Linked DNA regions of Homo sapiens: region 2 is linked to region 1. A link means that fine-mapping ties the variant in region 1 to the expression of a gene that starts in the linked region. Tissue or cell type: adrenal gland. Region 1 holds a variant in brackets; the other region holds the start of a gene. All regions are shown on one strand. Distances are between the middles of the regions.

What was found. PIP is the estimated chance that this variant, and not a neighbour inherited with it, causes the effect.
Region 2: CIB4 starts here. The variant in region 1 is the best candidate, but not a certain one, in a credible set for the expression of CIB4 in adrenal gland (GTEx, PIP 0.63).

The regions. Positions count from the first base shown.
Region 1 is chr2:26,449,312-26,453,547 of GRCh38, forward strand. It overlaps DRC1 (dynein regulatory complex subunit 1), which reads left to right. Exons shown (of 17, transcript NM_145038.5): 12 at 685-774; 13 at 1,281-1,370; 14 at 4,009-4,236. Among named protein-coding and RNA genes, the nearest start is that of DRC1, 50 kb to the left of the region's middle. The variant G/A (reference allele first, on the strand shown) is at 1,983.
Region 2 is chr2:26,639,577-26,643,812 of GRCh38, forward strand. CIB4 (calcium and integrin binding family member 4) reads right to left here and starts at 1,790. Exons shown (of 7, transcript NM_001029881.3): 1 at 1,685-1,790; 2 at 957-991. The coding sequence starts at 1,738.

The sequences.
Region 1 (4,236 bases):
AGTGTTTGTTTGGATCTTACGGTTCTGAAGTGGGTATTCTTTTAGGATAGTGAGGGCAGTTGCCTTTGGCTGGCTCTTGCCACTGAGGGCAGCTGCTGCTGAAGGGGTCAGGTGGCAGGTTCTGCCCTCTGAACCTGCAGCTGGATGCAGAGGCCACCTCCCCATGGAGCTCTCCCCCAGGCATCCCAGCTCAGAGCGGGCACCGCATCTGCTCAGCCGCCCTCTCCCTTCCACCGCATGTGTGCTGTGTTTTGGTTTGGGGTGCCCACTGCTTTCCATGCCTCCCTGTCCTGCTGCTGTGTTCTGTAGATATTTGGGGACAAGACTATGGGTGAAGCAGGAGCCTGTGACTGGGTCAGCTTTGGACTGTGGTGGGGGCCTCAGGAGTTTGCCTAGTGGCTTGTGGGTGAGGTGGGTTGGTGCCCTTCTGGGTGGGAAAAGCTAAGTCTGTGGTGAGGATGGGCTTTGTCCCTGGCCTTGCTTGTCTCTGGCCTTGCTCCCTGGGGAGGGGGGCGTTCATGGGCACCCCAAGAAGGCTTTGCTGGGGCCCACTGCTGGCTCCCATCCCTGGGCGTCTGCTCCGTGGCATGGTCCCTGGAGTGTTACACAGGGGGCAGCTGCAGACCCTGGGACTCGCTCCTGAAACCTGTCCCCGACAGGAGATGCCTTCTTCCTTCTCCCCAGGGGTTCCTCATAGAGAGCAAGCTGCTGAGCCTTCTCCTGCCCCTGGAGCAGAATGAATGCTATCTGCTGAGGCTGGATGCCATCTTCTCCGTGAGTCCAACGGGGCTGGGAGGACACGGGTGGGGCTGCAGCCGGCCGTGTTCTCAGATGGCCCTGCCATTGCCTCAACCCTGGCAGTGGACGAGGGTCTCCCGGGGCTTCCCCTGCTCCCTGTCACATCCTTCCCTTAACCTACTCTCCACACAACACATTGGTCTCAGACTCACTGCAGTGTCTCCCACCCCTGCCTCTTCCTCTACTAGCATCTTCCTCTCAGGTTGTAGGTTCTCCCTGACACCCCCAAACTCAAATCTGGTGCAGCCCCACTAGGCATCCTCACAGCCATGGGATCCATATGGAGCAGCTCCTGGCTCTATGAGCATTGTTTCCGTGTGTTCTGATGTGTGTGTCCCCAAGTTCACAGTCGCTTCCCAGCGTTGGATGAATGCCCTCCACAAGCCAAGCCTCCCGCTCTTAGGAGCTGAGCATCTGTCAGCTGCCCAAGCCCGTGGCCTCTTGATGGGGTGTTTGAGCAACCATCCTGTTTTTCGCCCCAGGCCCTTGGAATTGAAAGTGAGGATGACTTGTATAAACTGGTGAACTTCTTCCTTAAATATCGAGCTCACCGTTTATCTTCCAGCCTCCAGGTAAGGCAAGGTGCAGAGAGAAGAAAGCATTTTCTTTCTTTCTTATTTATTTATTTATTTTATTATACTTTAAGTTCTGGGTTACATGTGCAGAACATGCAGGTTTGTTACATAGGTATACATGTGCTCTGGTGGTTTGCTGCACCCATCAACCCATCACCTACATTAGGTATTTCTCCTAATGTTATCCCTCCCCTAGCCCCCACCCCCCGACAGGCCCCGGTGTGTTATGTTTCCCTCCCTGTGTCCATGTGTTCTCATTGTTCAACTCCCATTTATGAGTGAGAACATGCGGTGTTTGGTTTTCTGATCTTGTGATCGTTTGCTGGGAATGATGGTTTCCAGCTTCATCCATGTCCCTGCATTTTCAATTGTCCCGAAGCCCCCAGAGCACAGTGCTGTCTTTGAGTAGCACTTCTGGAGAAATAGCGGGGCTTTTATGTCAGGTATAGCTAACTTAGCATTTCCCTTATTGTTTATCAATTTGTCTCTTTGTAAAGGGAAGAATGGCTTGGGGGTGAGATGCTGTTCTTATACTGAGGCCCAAGCAATCTTTTCCTGCACCCTCCCTCAAAACCAGGTCTCAGCCACTGTGAGACCAGAGCCCACCAG[G/A]TTCTGAATATTTTGATCCTTAACACTTTCCCGCAAGGCAAGGCCCATTTGTCCTACATATCTTGATTGTAATTGATTTCAGAAGGTGAATCAAATATTAACTATTTTAAAGAAGATGCCATATTAAAAGTCATATAACATTTTAATTTAAAAATGAAAAATGTGAATGAAAAATGTTTTTAGTACTGCTAGCCCAAAGCTGAGTATCCTGACATGCCTGTAAAAAGAGTTGGCTGGGCTAGGCACAGTGGCTCATGCCTATAGTTCCAGCTACTTGGGAGGCTCAGTTTAGCCCAGAAGGTTGAGGCTGCAGTGAGCCATGATGAGGTTGAGGCTGCAGTGAGCCATGATTTCACCACTGCATTTCAGCCTGGGTGACAGAGTGTGAGACACTGTCTCTAAGGGAAAAAAAAGAGAAAAGAAAAAAAGAGCTGGCAGAAATGGACAAAACCACAAAGCCATAAAGGGAATAAAAGCTATATTTGACTACAGAATTTAAAAACAATTCTGTAGTGCAAAAATCATGATAAGCAAAGTTAAGAGATGAATGACAAGCTGCAGAGAAATATTTTCAACTCATATCATAGTTAAGGCATTTCCTTAATATATAAAGAGCTCTCTGAAATCAATAAGAAAAAGACCAACAAAAGGAACAGATAACAAATATGAATGAACAACTCCTAGAAGAGGCAATACAGGTAACTCTTAAACATATGAAAAGACAATCAGCCTTCCTTGTAATAAGAGAAATGCAAATTAAAATGGCTGATTTCCATTTTGCCAACCTGTTATGTTGGCGCAAAAAAAAAAAAAGCTTGATAACACAGCAAGTATAACATAGCGATGACTGAGGTGTAGAAAACAGGCACACTCATAAGTTACTGGTAGGAGTATAAATTGTAACCTCCATTGAGGACAGTTTGGCAGTATCAATTACAAAACTATATACATTTTACTCTGAAATTCTTCTTCTTTTTTTTGAGACAGAGTCTCACTCTGTTGCCCAGGCTGGAGTGCAGTGGCACGATCTCGGCTCACTACAACCTCCATCTCCCAGGTTCAAGCCATTCTCCTGCCTCAGCCTCCTGAGTAGCTGGGATTGATTACAGGCACCTGCCACCACGCCCGGCTAATTTTTGTATTTTTAGTAGAGATGTGGTTTCACCATGTTGGCCAGGCTGCTCTCGAACTCCTGACCTCAAATGATCTGCCCACCTTGGCCTCTGAAATTCTTCTTCTAGGATTTTATTCTCTAAATATATCTCATTACAGTTGAAATGGTGTATTTATTGTAGCTGATTCACTGTACATTGTTTGAAATGGCAGAAGATTCGAAACAACCTATATGTCCATTGTTGAGGAATCTATTTAATAATATATGGTATGTCTACACGATGGGGTACTATAAAACTGTGGGAAAAAACCAAAGTTCTTTATGTATTCACATGAAAAGGTACCTAAGGTTTATTGGTAAGTGTAAAAGCAAACTACAGAACTCTATTTGTAGTATAGTATCATTGATGTCAAAACGAGAAGGAGGAGTATATATGGAAAGGTATGCGCATGTATTTATATATAAACATTATATAGACATACTATTTCCTTGGAAGGAACCATAGGAAACTTGATAGCATTCGTTTGCCTGTGGGAGGTCAATTGCATGAACTGCAAAATAGGAGTAGGAGGAAGACCTTTTAAATTTAACAATTAAAGCAAAAATTTAATCTGTATTATGATTCAAAAGAAGATTTCTAACATGTAAGCTTTATGAATGTCAGTAAGGTGAGCACCTAGGAGCCCGGATTTAGAAACAGAACCTTTCCATTTTCTCGTAGCCTCCTAGTGCCTCTCCCCATCCCATCCCCCTTCTTCCCACTCTTTCTCCTGTTTCTGTCCCTGTGTAAATGTCTCCCTGGGCAAGCTGTCACTTTCTGTAAACTTTTCTGGTTTTTCTTCTTCCTGCCTCTCTCTCCATGCTCATGCTCGTGTGTCCCCAGCCCACAGTTGTCCGTGCATCTTTCTCCAGATCAAGCCCTGCAGTCAGGCGAGCATGGAGAAGGCGAGCATGGAGGAGACAAGCACGAGGTCAGAATTGGAGCTGGCAGAGCAGACGGAGATGGAGGGAGAAAAGGAAGAAAGCCTGGTGGAAGGGGAGAAGGAGGAAGAGGAGGAGACCCCACCCTCCCCCTGGGTCATCCACCCCAATGATGTCCTCAAGATTCTGGAGGCCTTCGTCATGGGTCTGAAGAAGCCT
Region 2 (4,236 bases), 190 kb after region 1:
CATATTTTTCTATATTTAAAAAAGTGAGTGAATATTATTTTCAAAAGGGAAACAATGTCACTGGGTGACAGCCCCTGGTTAGCTCCCCGTGCCCTGGCCATCCCCCATCCTCATTTGTGCCTGGAGAGTCTTGCACTTGTGACAAAGTTGTTACCTGCCACCACCAGACCCTGAGTGGGAAATGTGGCTTCCGTGTGGTGACTGGGGAGGGTTAGTCCAAGCAAAGATGATGAGAGGGAACCTTCCCCCACCTTCCCCTGAAAGTGTCTTGGTGAGCTCCTTTATTCATCTAACAGGTTTTGTTGGGCACCTGGCTTGGCCCAAACACACAAACACACACACACCTCTCACACTATTCACTCTCCCCCACAGCCCCACGAGAAGGGTATTTGGCCACCTCCACGTTGAATGAAGTTTCTTCCCCACTGGACAGCGGTCCGCATGACAACAGGGAGCGGGGCTGCTCACCACCCCACCCTCAGGGCCTCCACGAGGCCAGCACATCACAGGCACCGGAGAAAGGGCAGGGAGGGAGGGAGGGAGGGAGGGAGGTGGAGAGGGAAGTCTGGGCTTCAGTCATGCATCCAAGTTTACCCAGCCAGTGGACAGCCAAAATGGGCTTCAGACATAAGTTCCCCAAGTCCTTTCCTTGTTCTCCTCATTATTCCAAAGAGGTTCTGTCCAGCTCCATGATCCTCTGAAGAAACCTCACTTTGGATCCCAGTAAAAGGTTAGCAGCCTAAAGCCTGGTGTCTCATTCAGCTCCAGTGGGGCTCTGCGGATCGTGGCCCCTGGGCCCTCCCATCCCTGCCTGCCGTGTCCCAGCCCCATCTCCAGGGCTGTGTGGCTCTGAGCAGGGACCACACTCAGGGACCAGCGTGAGGCTGTATTAGGGCAAGAATCCAGCTCAGAGGGAGGAGCTGGGAGAAGGAAAGAGGGGCGGGGCTTCTACTCACCACAGAATTTCATTTCTGGTCAGGAAGGTCAGGGCCTGCAACAAATCACAGAGAAGCGACGTGTCCACTCCATTCATCCCTGCTGTGGCCCCTGGGGAGTGGCGCAATTCAGAGGCTGGGGAGGAAATGCCCATTCTTTTGCTGCACAGCTGGGGGAACCCCAGGTTGAGGTGGATGCCTGAGGTGGCAGCAGGAGAGGAAATGGTGCTCTTTCTTACCCCCTAGTCTCTTACAGCCCTGGGAAGGAGGGCATTGGCACAGATGTGGAGAGCAGATCAGAGACAAGAGTGAAACTCTGGGCTCTGGTGCAGGAGACAGATGGAGGAAGGTAACCTTAGAGATCTCATCTGGGCCACATGGATGCAGATTTAGCAAAGAGAGGGACCACCGCTACCCCGCCTGGTAAACTCTAGAGCAAGCTTGTCCAACCCACGGCCTGCAGGCCACATGCAGCCCAGGACAGCTTTGAATGGGGTCCCAACACATATTTGTAAACTTTCTTAAAACATTATCAGATTTTTTCGTGATTTTTTTTTATTAGCTCATCAGCAAGCATTAGTGTTAGTGTATTTTATGTGTGGCCCAAGACAATTCTTCTTCCAATGTGGCCCAGGGAAGCCAAAAATTGGACACCCCTGCTAGAGCGTCAGGAAGGAATTTTCCCATTCATTCCACCTGCTTTAGGAAGCTCCCACCTCTGCCCAGAGTCCCTAGCCCGATCTACCCACCTGGTACTCTTCCAGGTCCTCCCAGTGCATCTGATACCTCAAGCATTGCCCCATGCCAACCACACCTTTCTGTCTGCCAGCAGTAGAACCTCAGCCTCAAGGACTCGCCAGCTGAGGCACCTCGTTGATCCAGTTGCCATGGTGACCTACATTCCACCTTCTGCCCATTCCACCTGAGTTACTGAGTTGGCAAAGAAACAAATTCTTTTCATTCCCATTCCACCTGAGTTGCTGAGTTAGCAAAGAAGCAAATTATTTTCAATCCCAAAGCTAAGAGGCATCAGTCCCATACAACAAGCAGAAAGGCAGTCCAAAGATGGGGCTGAGAGTCACACTGTCAGCTCAGGAGTCACAGTGCCTGGGCTCCAATCCCAGATCCACCCCATTGTAACCTGGGACAAGCTCTTCAATATCTGTGTGTCTTAGTTTCCTCATCTGTAAGTGGGGATGATAATCATGGGATTGTTGTGAGGATTGACGAATACAGGGAATAATGTCAGGCACATAGTAAGTGCTCAATAAATGCTAGCTATTTGAACCACAACCTAGCTGGGCATGGTGGCTCACGCCTCTAATCCCAATACTTTGGGAGGCCAAGTCTGGTGGATCACTTGAGGTGAGGCGTTTGCTACCAGCCTGGCCAACATGCAGAAACCCTGTCTCTACCAAAAAATACAAAAATTAGCTGGCATGGTGGCATGACCTGTAGTCCCAGTGACTCCAGAGGCTACGATGGGAGAATCGCTTGAACCTGGGAGGTAGAGGTTGCAGAGAGCCAAGATCGCACCACTGCACTCCAGCCTAGGACCCTGTCTCAAAAAAACAAAAAAACCCTACAACCTGCTGGGTGCAGAGGTGCACACCAGCACACCTGTAGTCCCAGCTACTCAGGAGGCTGAGGCAGGAGGATCGTTTGAGCCCAGGAGTTCATGGCTGCAGTGAGCGATGATCATACCACTGCACTTCAGCCTGGGTGACAGAGCAAGACCTTGTCTCTAACAAATCAAAATAAAAAATAAACAAGGAACCACAACCCCAGGACTATGCCAGGCATGGGGATGCCGAAATATATCAGCATAGATCCAACCTCAGGGAGTGGCCCAAAAAGTACAGAAAAGGGCGTTCCACCCCATCAGTCAGGGTCTCTGCAGGAACAAAGGGCACCATCAAATCAGGATCATGTGAAAAGGGTCTAAAAAAAGGACTCTCCACAAAGATGTGTTCAGGGTGTAGGGAAGTCACATGGATAACTGGATAACACAGACTCCTGAGCCCAACAACAAAGAGCTGCTACCCGACCCAGCACCACCCACCTGGAAGCACCACCCCAGCCCCACTCTCTCCTCTTTCTGTGATCTCCTACAGGGAAGAGAACAGGGCGGAGCAGGATGGGCAGACAGAGACAACGTCCAGCACAGGCATCAACATCACAGGCCAGGAGGGCCTTCCAGAAGCCATCACTCCCTCCCCTGCCTCCAGGAGGGTCTGCACACCCACCTTTGTCATGAAAGGCTGGTCTCCTTGTTCTAGAACACATCTTCCCTATGCTCTCCTGAGTAAACATCCCAGTGATTCTCTGATGACGCTTATTTATATCTCTGAAGTGCAACTGCCTGCTTTTTCTTTGACTGTCCTCCATGGGGATAGAGCCTGGCAGAAGGAAACCCGGGGCCCTCATTCCTTCATCTGCTCACCAGACACAGGTAGAATATCCACAGTGTGCCAGGGACTTGGCTTGACCCTGGGAGAGAGAGGACTGAACATGACTTCAACCCTCAAGGAACGTATGCTCTTCATGCTCTTTTAAGGGAGTAAGAAAAAAAAAAAAAAAAAAGAAATGTGTGCTCACCACACACACACACATACACACACACACATATATACACACACTAAAGCAGATGGAGGCAGATGTCACAGACGGGGAAGAGTACAGAGTTACGAGTGTTTAGAAGAGGAAAGGCTTGCTGGGCACCAAGCTTTCATGTAGGTGGTGGCATTTAAGTTGCTGTTATCATGCGGTGGTTAAGAACATGGGCTCTGAAATCTGAAAGGCCTGGCAGCATCTCTTCTTACTGCATCACCTCAAGCAAGTCATAAAATACTGTAAGCCTCAGTTTCCTCATCTGTAAAAGGGGAATGATAAATCCCTACTTCATAAGTATTGCAGGCATAAAATAAAATGATGGGTGTATGTGAAGCTCTTATTTAGCAAGATACCTGCTATGTATTGAGTTCTCAATAAAGGGTAAATTACCAGCCTGGCTAACATGGCGAAATCCCATCTCTACTAAAAATACAAAAATTAGCCAGGTGTGGTGGCGTGTGTCTGTAGTCCCAGCTACTGGGGAGGTTGAGGTATGAGAATCGCTTGAACCCAGGAGGTGGAGGTTGCAGTGAGCCAAGATCGTGCCTCTGTACTCCAGCCTGGGTGACAGAGTGAGACCCTGTTTCAAAACAAACAAAAATAAGGGTAAATTATATTACTACTTTTAAAAGTTGGGCCTGGGCCGGGCATGGTGGCTCATGCCTGTAATCCCAGCACTTTTGGAGGC